Homo sapiens: one gene and its partners. The protein of the gene in region 3 interacts with the protein of the main gene of each other region in a pairwise test. Each region holds a gene or a part of one and is shown on either strand. Other genes may lie near its edges.

Region 1 (3,500 bases), on a different chromosome or scaffold from region 3:
GGCGGACGTTGCAGTGAGCCAAGATCACACCACTGCACTCCAGCCTGGGTGAAAGAGCAAAACTCCATCTTAAAAAAACAAAACAAAACAAAAAAAACCCAATAATGTCACCTACTATCAATATGAGCTTAACGAAAATTTTTATGTCAGTTGTGACTGAAAAATGTGATAACACTAAACAATAAAAATTCCTATGATAAAGAAAATGAAAAATACAAGCTTAAAAAAGGAAGTAAAACTCCCTAGAAAAAAAAGGGAGGAAAAAAACATTTACTCTTTTGAAAATGAAGCACAACTCTCTTAGTCGTACCTCTGCAATCTAGTATCATGACTGAAATGTCCTCACATCTGAATTTTCCAGGTGTCTGAAGCCTACTTCTTTATCCATCCAACTTCTTCTTTTTTTTTCTTTTTAAAAGGAAAACCTTTCTAAAATACATTAAACATTCCTGACCCTTCTTAAGCAGACCACACTGGAACCTCTTCTTGACTGTGACATCATTGAAAACACAGTTATCCTCTCAGGGCCATGAAACACATAATAAAGCTGTTTCAAATCACCCTACACAAATCGGCTAGTGTGATTTGGTTGAGTCGGCTTTTAAAGCTTTCCTGTTCCCTCCTTGACCACTAAGCTGCTACTGTCACTTCTCACTATTGTCAAATGAGCTTGTCTCTAAGAGCTCATCACCTTGTGTTTAGATTGCCATAAAACCATTCTAATTTGATAGGAAACCTAATATTGAAACTTGTTTGAACTGTATTTTTTGTTAAGTTTAAACACAAATGAAAGAAATGCATGAGCTTTAGTGCACTTAGAGCGCTTAGTGAGTGGAGTGCATGAGCTTTAATGCATGTACGAAGGTGTTCTGAAATGGTTCCATCTTATGTGTTTACTTCTTATTTCTCTCTGTGGTTCCATATAAGGAAAATTTCCAGGAAAACTGAACTCCAGATTTCAGATTCTACTAAATCTTTTTTAACATTTTCTTATTAAAAGTAAAAAACGCCCTCCTTCACACTCAGATCAAGTAAATGGTATATGATATTGTAGGCAGTAAGTATAAAAATACTTAAGTATATGGACATATTTTTCTATTAATGTTGAAACCTTTTCCTCAAATTGCTAAAACATTACAACATTTGCTTTTCTAACATTGAAATTGTTTTCAAAATTTAAGCTAACAATATTATTATGCTGTATAAAGCTGTCACAACCTACTATGATTTCACTAAAACCACACTCACAGACACACGAAAGGTACTCTCTTCATGCCAAATTACATTCATTCTAAAAGTGAATGGGCAGGTAATTACAAGGTGAGACTCCAACCATTAGATTAACTCACAGACCTAATTCCCAAAGGAGATATATATACATATACTGGATCAGAAAGAAATTCTTATTTAAAAATTAGGCCATGCTGATTCATCTTTAATTCCCTATTTTTATTTCATCTACTTTCAACTGATTTGGGAAATTATTTCATTTTTTTACTCTAAAGCCTTTAAAGGGCCTTTTTTTATTTACCAAATCACAGTAATTCATAAACCACAGGTCATGTACCAAATCACTAATAGTTAACTAAAAGCTACTCATTTGATATTTACTCCACACTCATACTAGGGTTGTTGTATTTTAGGAAAAGAATAACATGAATTTTACCATAAACCTTAATTATACACATTGACAGTATTACAATTTTAATCCATTTATAATTACCACTTACTACCAAAGGGGAACAAGAGAAATAGGAATGAGGTAAGTTAAGGAACTACAAATTAATATGCTTCTTATTTTTATGTGACTTAGATATATTAACAGCAGGACCAACTTTGGGGCTCTAAACTTAAAAAAACAAAAAAGCAATGAAATCTTGAAAGTACTCCTGACAAAACAATACCTCCAGAAAGAACATCCACATTAAAACAGGAACAAAACAAGGAGTTCACAATGTTTATCAGATCACAGTATTAAATGTCACTTCTGGGAATATTAATTAACAGCACTAGACAGCTAAGAAAGGTATTTCCTCAGTTAATATGAAATCTCCTTCCAAAAACTTCCATTTTAGTATTTTCTAAAGACAAACTTAATGAATAAGGTATTCATTATAGTATTAATGTTTGATGGTATTCCTTATGGATAAGGTACATTTCATAATTGTTAAGTTCTGTGAGATGCACAGGATACCTGGTTCAGATTTCTACTGATCCCCTGGAGAGATTACAAAGGCCCAACTCTTCCTGTTGTGTAGAGAACAGAACCAATTGGTACGCACTTGGCAGGCCAGAGTTTACATTAGCCATGCAGTAAAGAGTGAAGAATTCTGACAGGGGGGTGGTTAAAAATCAGAATAAGTTATTTAGAGCAGCTGTGAGAGCTCACTCTCTTTAATAATAGAACAGACTCTTATGTGCCGTGGAATGATTTTGAAGTAATGCTATTCAAAATCAAAACTGGACAGCTTCTCAAAGTCCCTTCCAGACCCAGAGACCAAGAACATTTACATCCAACAATACTAGTGAGAACCAAACACATCTCTTCTGCAAAACACTATCTTTACTTAATTGGAGGATATTAACAAGGTGGCTTTCTATGCAGTTGTGTGTTTTGCTAGATATCTGGGTCTTTTTTATCTGCATTCTCCTTGCTTCTACTGAACCGGAAGTTAACAGCTTTCACTGTTCAAATATTAATTTTTAAACCAAACCCTAATTACAGCAGGGCCTCAAACTGATTTACCTAACTAGCTACATGACCTTGGACAGTCTTTTCTTGTAAAATGAGAGGCTTGGACTAAGACCCACTAGAATGTAAACACCACGTTCTGTTCAACACTCTACTCCCTGCCCCTGGGACAGGAAGGCATTAAGAGAAAACCATTGCTATCCCCAAACTACAAATATAAAAAAACTTAAGTCATTTCTTTCTTTTCTAATCAATTAGATTTTATTCTGTTTTTCCCATTTTTAAAGAAGACAATGACACTGAAATGTCCTGTGCAGCAAATAGAAATGTATATAATTTAAAATAAGGTACTCAGTTTTTAGAAATAAAAAGGATTAACTATATAATAGCTGACAATCTTCACCCAGTTTTTTTACTCTTCTTCCTTCCCTTTAACCCATTACTGTGTCCCATTCCTTTTTCCTTTGAAAGAGAGCCCGAAAGAGTGCAGGACTTCAAGCAAAAGGGCCTGAGTACTAGCCCCACCTCTTCTATTAACTGACTCTGTGGGGACAAGCCACTTCCCCTTTGGGGCCCGAAAGGGTGCATCTGTTAAACAAGGGAGCTGCACTAATTATTAATTTCTAAAGTATGCTTCTTTTTAAAAAATCTGATTCACCTTATATTCTACCCATTATTCGATTCTTAATGGTTGGTGCTCACCACATCATTGCACAGTAGCCTTAAAATATGTCTTTCCCTCATTATTTCTCCTTACTATCCATACTGTTACCAAACAAATTTAATCCTAAAACCATGAGTTGAGCAG
Region 2 (3,500 bases), on a different chromosome or scaffold from region 3:
AAAAGCAGAATTAGGAAGACAAGGAATATGCAAAGGAAGAGAATGGCCGAAGGATTTGCTTTTTGATATGAAATGGCCTGGGAAGGTCTCTCTTATTAGGAACCCTGAAGAGACTATGGAAGTGGGTCATGAGAGTATATGATGGAAGAATGTTGCAGGCAGAGGAAGCCATAATCCAAAGGCCCCAAACAAGGGCATACTTGGTATGTTTGAGGAACTGCAAGGATGCCTGTGACACTAGAGCAAAGAAAGCAGTGAGGAGTGTGGTGGGAGATGAGGTTGAAGGGCTTGTTTGGGATGTGGGATTGGGGGGTGGGGTGACCACATAGAGTGGGCTGGTAGTTGACAGAACCAGCTACACATTCTAGTCACTCTGGGAGCTTTGAAAAAATGTCTGGGCCCAATCCCAAAATCTGTTTTAATTGGTCTGGGTTGAAATCTGGTCAAGTCTTTATAAAACATTACCAGAATAAATCCAGTGTGTAGTCAGGGTCTGGTATACCTTAGTAAAGCATGACTCTAACTCAGTGAGATGGGAAGCCACTGAAAGATTTTGCACAGGATGATACAGCTTGATCACCCTGGCATGTGCCTCTTCTTCACCCACATTCCCCTCTGGACCTTAAGATCATGCCTTAGTATGAAGCTTGGGATCCTGCCTCACCCTTTTAGGGAAGAGAGTGAATGTGGTCCTAAGTAAGCTCTCTGGGCACTTCACCTGTTCTGCCTCTGCCAGTCTGTCTGGGTAAGTGTCAAGGATGTAATAGAAGGAAAAGAGGAAGACTTCTAGGAACAAGAGCCCATTCTGTCCCCTTCCAAGACAAGTTGGAGACAGAGCTTCTACCTTTTTCAGTTTCCTTCCAGCAGGCAATCCCTGGGCCTCCCTCCCAGTGTTACCCTATAGTCACAGTATTTACAGATTGATTTAAGAACCAGTAAGTGGTGTATGTCACTTCTGCTGATCCCTGTGTTGAAAATATTAAAACTTCTGCACATGTGTCATATATGTAACCTAGTACCCCAAACCTTGCTGTCACGCTCTGTTACCATAAAGGATATGCTCAGAAATAATATAAGCCTGCTATCTAAATTGCACCTTTTTCTGTCGAAGTAACAGTATAATGTAGTTGTTCAGAGTGGGAACTCTGAAACTGGCTAATTTGCATCCTGGTTCTAACACTAGCTAGCTGAGCGATAAATCCATTGTGTGCTTCAGACAATGGTGTCAATAAGTCTGTTGTCAGTCTGAATGAGTAGATACATATAAAGTGCTTAGAAAAGTGCATGACACATATTTAGGGCTCAAAAGATCTAAATATTAATGTCTCTATAGTTTCCTTCTTGATTTAATTACCACACAAATGAATCTCTCTTTAATTTTATCAACAGCATAGGAGACTTCTATATGCATAATATGTCTTTTGGTAGCATGTTAGGCACATTCTTCTCTGTGGTTTAATTGCTGAAAACATAAAGATGCTACATACTAAGTGGAGTAAATTTTAATTGAGAAAAGGAAGATAATCTCAAAACATTTTTAGAAAACAAACAACCCATTTTATATCATTGCTGTGAAAAAATAATTACTGGCAAAACTCTCTAATTCCTGGCCTTCTCATGATCAAAAAAAACAGCAGCCTCTTTTGGACAAGCTGAGGCTGGGAATGTAAAGAATTAAGAAGTGGACAATAAATGTTTTCAACGTATTTATCTAGAGAACCATCTAGAGAAGTGCCTGCTTTGCCAGCAAATATGAAAATCTGAGATTTCATTGTGGCCTCCCCAACTGCTCCCCTAGCAGAGGTTACAAGATTTAGTGGATGATGGTGGGGGAGGATGACAAGGGGGGAGGTTACACAGTTTCATCCTCACAGGAAAGGGACTACTTGGACTCACATTATTTCTCTAACTTTCTGTATCCATAGAAATGTCTCATCTTTGTTTCATAGGATTCAGAAAGTTAACATAAACTTACTGGAATATGAAAATATGAAATATTTATTGAAAATGCAAATGTGATACTTACACATAGTAGCAGCCCTAAAGGCACCTGAAAGCTAATGTATCTTTATTCAAGGGGAAGGCTTTACTTCAGAGCTTTATTTGAGCTTAACACTCCACCTGAGTGATATTTAAATAAAAGCAAAATAGAAAATGCCTCTTAGGAAAGAATGCCCTAATTTCAGCATTGCTCTTATATTAATTTAGAGGTCTCATTTTAACATTGCCCACAGGATAAAGTCTAAATTTCTCAGCTGCACAAGCTGACCTCAATCTTTTCTGCATCTTCTTTTACCCCATCTCTACAGTGGCCCTACCTCCATCACTTCTTTTCAGGAGTTAGTGCATCTGAAAGGCAAACTCATTCCTCTATATCTTTACTCCTACAACAGTTTGTTCAGTTTTATTTCTGTTGAAATTTTGCATATCCTTCAAAAGTCAGTTCTCTTGAATGATTTTCTCTGATTCCCCAGATCTGGAATTAGAGCTTCTTCCTTTGCCCTCTCAGTCCCTTTTTGTTCATTTATTGCCCTGAGTTAGTTCTGCCCACTGTTTTTGCTAATTGCATCCTTTTTATCATTATAAACAGTTAGCTCTTTGGGGAAAGAGTACAATATTTCTTAGTCACATGTGTTTGGCATATATACAGTACCACATATAGACCAGAAACTAAATACCTATGAAATGAATGAAACACAAAGACCAAAAAACATTTCCAGAACTAGAACATACTTTCCCTTGAAACCCCTGCATGTAACATCTTTATCTCACAGCGATTTGTACTGCCACCCTTGTGTCTTTGTATATCTCTATGACAGTCTAATTATGACATTTCTTGCTCAATAGGAGCATTTAGTGCTCCAAGTTGACCCTAGGACAATAATTTGACCTGAATAAGATAAAATTCAATCTTTATTCAATGTCCTTCAAGATCTGACTTATGCCACCAGCAAATCTCATGTCACTCCTCTCCTCTCACTCTGTAACACCCATATGGAATTTCTGTCCCAGAAATGGTTTTTCTATGTGGAATGCCTTTTTTTTTCCCTTTTCCTCCTCTTCATCTTCCATTGGCTAACTACTCATGCACCAGATTCTAGATAAGATGCTACTCATTTTGGAAATTATCCCTAGCTCCCCACACCATCTCTAGCCCTAGATTAGATAAAGTCTTTCTCCTTAGTGATCTAATAGCTAACAGTTAGATATGAGAAAGACTTGGGTCAAGGTCTGAAGTTATTGTTACCAACTAGTAACTTTAGACATTTGCAAACTTTAGCTTATTAAATCATAGATCACTGGGCCTCATCCTCAGAGTTTCTGAATCAGTGGTTCTGGGATGAATCTCAAGAATTTGCTTTTCCAACAGCTTTCTGGGTGACACTGATGATGCTGTTCTGAGGAGCACAGAGATAACTGATGCTTTTGATAATTTATTCATCTACTTCTGTTACCCCTGTAAACTTTAGTTTCAGCACCTGCAAAGTGAGGCTAAAAGG
Region 3 (5,328 bases):
ACGTCTGGAGAGAAGAAGCGATCTGGCCACAGTGACAGCAATGGCTTTGCTGGCCACATCAACCTCCCTGACCTGGTGCAGCAGAGCCATTCTCCAGCTGGAACCCCGACTGAGGGACTGGGGCGCGTCTCAACCCATTCCCAGGAGATGGACTCTGGGACTGAAGTAGGTGCTGGGCAACAGCTGACATGACAGTTCTGCTGTCCTTCCTGGGGTTCTAAAACCATGATCTCTTCAAGAATGAGGCTTCGCCAAGCTCCTTGAAACTTGTTTGGTTGGTTTCTACCATAGAGCTACTTATGCAGATACTCAAATAGAGAAATCATGGAAGCAGAGCAGTGAAAAGTTCTCAGATATCATCTGAACCAATACCTGTTTCTACAGATGAGTGTACTGAGGTTCACAGAGGTTGAATGACTTGTCCAAGACACACAGCTGGTTTGTGACAGATCTAAGACCAGAACTGGGACCTCCAGTTCTGATGGAAACTTCAGGCTACACAGATTTCAAGGCCAACAGTTGAGGTTTATATTTGTGTTAATTTAGTCAAACTAAGTATGACTTAAGTAAAATGAAGTTTAAATGATTTGTTTATGAAAAATAAAATTTAATAAATAGATAAGTTCTTAGAGTGTTCATCTTTCATAAATTCAAAATTGTGTGAGAAGAAAGAAACCAAGCATTACCTTTCCTGTAGAGAAACAGCCCCAGCGAAAAGTCTGAATAAACACAATCTGTAGGTAGTGCCCATAGACGCTGATGACTGACACCAGTTGGATGAGTTCACAGTGTGTAGTCTTGTTTCATTAACAGTCTTGTCAATCACACGTAAGGCCCTAAATGTGTTTATAAAGCACATGTACTATTATTTTTGACATTGTCCACACACTAAGTTTTTATGATGCACCCTTTGAATTCTAAAGTTATAGAGTAGATGAGCTTTGCATACCCCAAGGAAAAGAACACAGTGATATACTGCAAAGCACAGCATCCTATTGTAATTTCATGCTGTGTGGGCATTTTCTGCCTGAACACCTCTCTTGGTACCAAGGAGGACACCATAAGATTGAACCCTGGTTCAAATTCTGCTGCTGCCCCAGCTCTATGTGGAAATGTTAGTGCCTGCCCTACCTCTTTCACAGACATCTTCCAAAGATCAAAAGAGAACATGTACGTGAAAGTGTTCTATTTGGTAGGGGGAATTCAACCTTGAGGAGGATGAAATGGTTTTGATTTCATAGGATGGAAAGAAAATCTTGAATTAAATCAGATTAGATCTTTGTGGTTTTCTCCTTATATGTTTAGAGGTCTTGGATGGTGGTTTTATTTTTAAATAAAAACCTAACAGTAAAACTAAAGTGAAATAACCTTTAGTTAAAGATATTTATCCAAAAAAGATGTGCTTATTATGTTGAATACAGATGTGTTTATGATGTTAAAGGACAAGAATAGAAGAAATGGACATGACTGACATTGCAGCTTATTCAGCAAAACTCAAATTTAGAATATTGTGACATAAAACCCTGATATTGAGTTTACTGTTCCCTCATCTCCTTCTGACATCATGTTTTCATGGTGCCATTCAAGCCCAAGATTCATTTTTTAAAGTAAGCCTTCAAGGTACATTGCTCACAAACGTAATATCCTCATGAAGTCCCTAAATAAGGATGTAAATGTAATTATTCTTTTAAGGAAACTATCGTGGGAAGGAAATATCTTCAATTCCAGCATAAAATCATCCCTGAATTGAGGATTTTAAAGCTTTTGGAGCCAACACCAATTCACTTGCATCACCAGGCCAGAGTAGAAGGGCTCAAAGCTCTCCTCCCCAAGAGAAAGCCCCTTGGTTTGACTCTGTTCAGGATAAAGTACTGCTGTATAGGCTTCCTTACTTAGTTTATTGCCAATTATGTCAGCTTTTCATATTGATCAAGTAGTCAATATAGGAGGTTGCTTTTACTGAAAGGGAGAGGTAAGCTCTGTCACCACAGTGATCTTACAGATTTTAAGGTGCCACATGTGGTCCAAAATGTAATTTTCTCACTACAATTCTTGCAGTCTGATAATTAATGAAGTCCTACGAATGCACAATGACTAGTGAGTAACCAATACCAGAAGAAGCTGGAGACAGGCACGCACTGACTAGAGCACTAGAATGTGAACACCTGAATACCTTGAAGAATCTGTGATCGTTTTACAGCCCAAGCACAGTATTGTTAGCATTGTTATTCCTGCAGTATTTATCTGCTCTTCTTAATCTTCTTGCTTATTGATTAGTATGGCATGGGGAGCAGCACCAAAGCCTCCTTCACCCCCTTTGTGGACCCCAGAGTATACCAGACGTCTCCCACTGATGAAGATGAAGAGGATGAGGAATCATCAGCCGCAGGTAAGCAAGAAGGGCCCTGTGTTTAAAAAACAGCTTCGTCTTCCTTTCTGGTATGACCTGATAAGGAAATTAATCCTCAGTTCAGTAGTTAAGCTGATTACTGCTTAGGTCCTATCTTAAAAGGAAGACTTTTTAAAATTATTATTTCTGTAGGACTCCTAAAACAAATGTATTACTTTCCATTTTTTTTCCCATCTCTTCTATTTCGTTTCTGGTAGACCCAGGGGTACATAGGGACCCTAGGAAAAGCTGTTCCTCAGTGATCTCTGAACATAACTAAATGTTTCCCCAAAACAATTTCTGGGTACAATGTTTTACACACATTAGGCACTTAATAAGTGTATGGTACATTGTGTTGAGTTCTAGGTGTGTGCTTCCCACCACAAAGATCAGGCTGATTTAAAGGAGTCTTGCTTTCTAATCTTCTTCAAGTAATTAATCATCAAAGTCAGCTTAGGACAGTTTTTCAACTGATAAACTGCAATTTTAAAAAGTAGATCTTTTTTGCCTATATACAAGAGTGGGGATGGTGTATTTAATTTGGGACTTTCTAGACTCTGCAAGTAGTGTCTATAAGCCTGTTTTTCTAATGAATAAAAGATTCCTTTGATGAATGACTTAGACTTTATTCTACTAAAACAAAAAAAAAGTGTAAAATAAGGAGAGTTTCAGAGTTTCCTTGCCTTTACTATAATTCAAACCAAACAAGGAGAAATCATAGTGTTTTGAAGCCCCATCTCCATAAGTTATCTTTTAAGATGTCACTGACTTCTCTGATTCTTTTTCTCAAAGCTCTGTTTACTAGCGAACTTCTTAGGCAAGAACAGGCCAAACTCAATGAAGCAAGAAAGATTTCGGTGGTAAATGTAAACCCAACCAACATTCGGCCTCATAGCGACACACCAGAAATCAGAAAATACAAGAAACGATTCAACTCAGAAATACTTTGTGCAGCTCTGTGGGGTATGTTGGTGCTTTTTTTTTTTTTTTTTTTAAATAACCACTCATTAATGAACTGACCCTCAAACATTAAAAGCCTGTGGATCTTGTCATCAAAAGAACACTGGTTGAATCCTGGGTATTAGAGACCTAACTTGGGACTATCTTGACCTCAGGAGAAACCAAAAGGAGTTTTATATGTAGAAATAGCTGATACGCTACTAGCCAGGAAGACGAGATTAGATTCAGAGCAACCTTGTCACACAATAGTGATAGGCTAAAGCCAACAAGAGAACTAGCTACCACTGAATACATTGAGTGGGCAAAGCAAAGCCTATAATGTGATCAATCAGAGGCGATTTGTGTCTGGCACTTTGTGATATACCCCACGTTCATTCTCCATGATCCATACCACATCCTGCAAGGGGAATATGAGCATAAATAATGGCATAAACCTTTATTTCAAGCTGAAAAATCAGCCCAGAGTATTTTTGTGAATTACTAAAGGTCATAACCCTAGCAATAACAAGATAAAACTTGAAAAGAACAACAAATAATTTAATGAACTTTCCCTTTTAGTTTAAAACATCAATCTGCATTTTCTCGTGAAAAAGATCTGCAGGTTTTAGCTGACCTCAAACTCAGGAGAGGCATGATGAGATTCTATCAAAGTCTTGGTCTGTGTTACTATAAACATCTCATACAGATTAAGGAAGGACATGTCCCCTGTGTACCCACTGAAAATACTAGGCTTGGATTGGGGAACCATAATTTTAAAAGGCTGAAAGCATTTGAGATGTTAGCGGGGAAGAGTGTGAAGCCTAGGAACCATTTCATGATAGAGGCTCTGTCCTCTGGAGAAGAGACAGAAGAGAACAAGATAGCCACATTTAATACTGAAAGGATTAATATATGGACAAAAAAGCAGACATTTGTGTTGATCAGAAGATAGAAGTACAAGACGTAAGAGAAGTTAGAGAGTTACATGTTCATGAATAAAGTACACTGCACAATGAGCCTCTCAATGTGTGTGTGTGTTGAGGGGTGGATGATACATTTCCCTAGCCATAAATTTTTAGGATTACAACTACCCAGACAAAGCCACTTATGTGCCTGTGCTTCTGTAATAGGGATTACTGCATGGGTGTTGGGCTGCACTAGATTTAGAGACCTGAGAAGTCCCTTAAAGTGAGTATGTCTGTGACTCTCCAGCTATTAACACTTCTCTTGAATGGGTTTATCATTTCCCTAAAAAAGAGCAAAAACTTGAGGGTATGGGGCATAAGATAGTTACATTTTGATTCAAGAAGGAGGAAGGGCCTTTCTTCCATTGGAGTATGGAAATGGAAATTCCACTGTATATTGAAGGTGGGTAGGCTAGAGACCACTGCATAGGGGTGGGGGTGAATCTTGGGGAAGAAGAGAAGTGATTTATAGGGAGAGCCAAGAAAGAAGTGGTTTTTCCAGGCAGGGAATAAAGGCAAATTATGCTAGCTTCACATCTGTGCCTAAGGCTCCTATTGACAAGGACTCTCTGCATTAGGTAGTAAATAACTAGATGTATGAATGCTGCTAACTTTATAAAAGAAAACTGTAATTTCATTACCAGAAGTACAATGATTTAATTATTATGTCAGAGCTTCTACATTCATTAGTTTATATTTACCTACTTGCCCATTAGTGTATATTTACAAGTCACAGTTTCTTAAATTTTATAGGGACTCTCGATGCAGAAGATTAAAGTTCATGAAAAGTCAGTCTTAGGGTGCTTCTTAAATTTACAGGTGTAAACCTTCTGGTGGGGACTGAAAATGGCCTGATGCTTTTGGACCGAAGTGGGCAAGGCAAAGTCTATAATCTGATCAACCGGAGGCGATTTCAGCAGATGGATGTGCTAGAGGGACTGAATGTCCTTGTGACAATTTCAGGTATGTTACTAAGATGATGAGTCCCCCAGGTCCATACAGCGGGAAAGGGATCCACCTCATTTCTGCAGAAAC
Region 4 (3,500 bases), about 150 Mb from region 3:
GCCTTTTCAACAATGTCGTCTAGTTGGAAACACAGTGTGTAGCCTTTTTGGATTGGCTTCTTTCGCTTAGTAATATGCATTTAAATTTCCTCCATGTCGTCTCATGGCTTGATAGCTCATATCTTTTTAGTGCTGAATAATATTCCATTGTCTGGATGCACTGCAGTTTATTTATCCATTCATTTACTTCAGGACATCTATGTTGCTTCCAAATTTTGGCAATTAAAAATAACTCTGCTATAAGCATCTGTATGCAGATTTTTGTGTTGACATAAGTTTCCAATTCATTTAGGTACATTCCAAGGGGTATGATCGCTGGATCATATGGTAAGAGTATGTTTAGTTCTGTAAGAACTACAGATAGTTTGACAGTTTCTTCCAAATTGTCTGCACCATTTTGCATTTCCACCAGCATAAATGAAAGTTCCTGTTGTTTCACATCCTCGCCAGCATTTGGTGATGTTAGTTTTGTATTTTGGCTACTGTAATAGATGTGTATTGGTATCTCATTGTTGTTTTAATATATAATTTCCTAGTGACATGTGATGCTAATATACTTTCCATTTGTATATCTTCTTTGGCGAGGTGACTGTTCAGACTTTTGCCCAGTTTTTAATCAGGTTGTTTCCTTACTGTTGAGTTTTAAGGGTTCTTTGCATTTTTTAAGAGCTCTTTGACTGCTCAGACTTTTGCCCAGTTTTTAATCAGGTTGTTTCCTTACTGTTGAGTTTTAAGAGTTCTTTGCATATTTTGGAAAACAGTACTTTATCAGGTGTGTCCTTTGCAAGTATTTTCTCCCAGACTGTGGCTTCTCTTCTCATTCTCTTGACATTGTCTTTATAGAGCAGAAGTTTTAAATTTTAAGGAAGTCCAACTTACCCATTCTTCCTTTAATGGATTGTCTATGGTGGTGTATCTGAAAAAGCACTGCCATATCCAAGGTCGCCTAGATTTTATCCTGTGTTATCTTCTAGGAATTCTATAGCTTTGTGTTTTATCTTTAGGTCTATGATCTATTTTGAGTTAATTCTTGTGAAGGGTGTAAGATTTGTGCCTAGACTGAATTTTTCATGTGGATGTCCAGTTTTTCCAGCATGAATTGTTGAAAAGATGAAGTCTCTATTCCACTGTATTGCCTTTGCCTCTTTGCCAAAGATTGAGTAACTGCTTTGTGTGGGTCTATTTCTGGGCTCTTCTATCCTGTTCTGCTGATCTATTTGTCTATTCTTTTCACACTGTTTTATTTCCTGTAGCTTTGCAGTAAGTTTTAAAGTCAGATAAAGTCTGTCCTCTGATTTTATTCTTCTCCTTTAATATTGTGTTGGCTATTCTGGGTCTTTTGTTTCTCTCTTTAAACTTTGGAATCGGTTTGTCAATTTCCACAAAATAACTTGGTGGATTTATTTATTTATCTATTTTTATGCTTGCTGGAAGTTTGAGATTATGTTGAATCTATATATCAAGTTGGGAAGAACTGATATCTTGACAATATTAAGTCTTCCCATCCATGAATATGGAATATCTCTCCATTTACTTAATTCTTTGATACCTTTCACCAGAGTTTTATAGTTTTCCTCATATAAGTCATATATATGTTGTTAGATTTATACCTGAATATTTTATTTCTGGGGGTTCTAATGTAAATGGTCATGTGTTTTTAATTTCGAATTCCACTTGTTCTTTGCTGGTATATAAGAAATAAATTGGGCCGGGCATGGTGGCTCACGCCTGTAATCCCAGCACTTTGGGAGGCCGAGGCGGGCGGATCATGAGGTCAGGAGATCGAGACCATCCTGGCTAACATGGTGAAACCCCGTCTCTACTAAAAATACAAAAAATTAGCCGGGCGTGGTGGCGGGCGCCTGTAGTCCCAGCTACTTGGGAGGCTGAGGCAGAGAATGGCGTGAACCCAGGAGGTGGAGCTTGCAGTGAGCCGAGATCACACCACTGCACTCCAGCCTGGGCAACAAGAGCGACACTCTGTCTCACAAAGTGAGACTCCGCCTTAAAAAAAAAAAGAAATAAATTGGCTGGGTGTGGTGGCTCATGCCTGTAATCCCAGCACTTTGGGAGGCTAAGGCTTGAGCCTCAGGAGTTCAATACTGGCCTGGGCAACCTGGCGAAACCCCATCTCTATATAAAAATACAAAAATTAGCTGGGTATGTTGGTGTGCACCTGAAGTACCAGCTACTTGTGAGGCTGAGGTGGGAGGATCACCTGAGCCCAGGGAAGTCAAGGCTGCAGTGAGCCATGATCATGCCAGTACACTCCAGCCTGGGTGACAGAGTGAGACCCTGTCTCAAAATTTTTTTTTTCTTAAAAAAAGAAATCAATTGATTTTTGTATACTAACCTTGTTTCCTGCAACCCTGCCATAATTGCTCATTATATTGTTCGAGGAGATTTTTTTGTCAATTCTTTTGGATTTTCTACATAGATGATTATATCATCTGTGAACAGAGACAGTTTTATTTCTTCCTTCTCAAGATATATACCTTTTATTTTATTTTCTTGTCTTTCTTCATTAGCTAGGACTGGACTTCCAGGTCAATGTTGAAAGCAGTGGTGTCAGAGAACATCTTTGCTTTGTCCCTAATCTTATCGGGAATGCTTTCAGTTTCTCACCTTTAAATATGATGTAAGCAGTATGATTTTTGTAGATGTTCCTTATCAAGTTGAGTAAGGTCCTCTCTATTCCTAGTTCACTGAGAATTTTTGTCATGAATGGGAGTTGAATTTTGTCAAACTTTTTTTGCATCTACTGATACAACCACGAGCTTTGTCTTCTTTAGCCTGTTGATATGATGAATGACATTAGTTGATTTTCAAAAGTTAAATCAACCTTGTATACCCAGTATAAATCCCATTTGATCATGGTGAATAATTCTTTTTATTCATTTTTGGATTTTAATTGTTAATATTTTGTTAAGGATTTTTGCATCTGTGTTGATGAGAGATACTGGTCTATTGTTTTCTTTTCTTGTAATGTCTTTGGTTTGGTATTAAGGTAAAACTGGGTTGGTAGAATGAGTTAGGAAGTATTCACTCTGCTTCTATTTTCTGGAAGATATTGTAGAGAATTGGTATCATTTCTTTCTTAAATGTTTAGCAGAAACCAGTGAACCTATCTGTGCTGGTGCTTTTTGTTTTGGAGGCTTATTAATTATTGATTTGATTTCCTTAATAGATATAGAATTATTCAGATTGTATATTTCTTCTCATATGAGTTTTGGCAGATGGTACCTTTCAAGGAATTGGCCTATTTCATCTAGGTTTTCAAGTTTGTGGGCATAGAATTGTTCATAATATTCCTTCATTATCCTTTTAGTGTCCATAAAATCTGTGGTGATATCCTTTATTTCATTTCTGACATTAGTAATTTGTATCATCTCTTTCTTAGTTAGCTTGACTAAAGACTTACTGATTTTAATAAGGTTTTCAAAGGACTAGCTTTTGGTTTTACTGATTTTTCTCTATGTATTTTCTGTTTTTAATGTCAT

Evidence for each region. Proteins that work in one complex are often made in the same cells at the same time.
Region 1: the proteins of TNIK (region 3) and USP24 interact in a two-hybrid assay, tested with the Homo sapiens proteins (one large-scale study listed by IntAct).
Region 2: the proteins of TNIK (region 3) and MTCL3 interact in a two-hybrid assay, tested with the Homo sapiens proteins (one large-scale study listed by IntAct).
Region 4: the proteins of TNIK (region 3) and PLCL2 interact in a two-hybrid assay, tested with the Homo sapiens proteins (one large-scale study listed by IntAct).

Annotation. Positions count from the first base shown.
Region 1 is NC_000001.11:55,208,865-55,212,364, forward strand, and holds part of USP24 (ubiquitin carboxyl-terminal hydrolase 24), read right to left. Parts: intron 1-3,500. UniProt on the Homo sapiens protein: Ubiquitin-specific protease that regulates cell survival in various contexts through modulating the protein stability of some of its substrates including DDB2, MCL1 or TP53.
Region 2 is NC_000006.12:127,484,836-127,488,335, reverse strand, and holds part of MTCL3 (microtubule cross-linking factor 3 precursor), read left to right. Parts: intron 1-3,500.
Region 3 is NC_000003.12:171,082,179-171,087,506, reverse strand, and holds part of TNIK (TRAF2 and NCK-interacting protein kinase), read left to right. Parts: coding exon 1-165; intron 166-2,277; coding exon 2,278-2,389; intron 2,390-3,181; coding exon 3,182-3,352; intron 3,353-5,112; coding exon 5,113-5,256; intron 5,257-5,328. UniProt on the Homo sapiens protein: Serine/threonine kinase that acts as an essential activator of the Wnt signaling pathway. Recruited to promoters of Wnt target genes and required to activate their expression. May act by phosphorylating TCF4/TCF7L2.
Region 4 is NC_000003.12:17,083,955-17,087,454, reverse strand, and holds part of PLCL2 (inactive phospholipase C-like protein 2), read right to left. Parts: intron 1-3,500. UniProt on the Homo sapiens protein: May play an role in the regulation of Ins(1,4,5)P3 around the endoplasmic reticulum.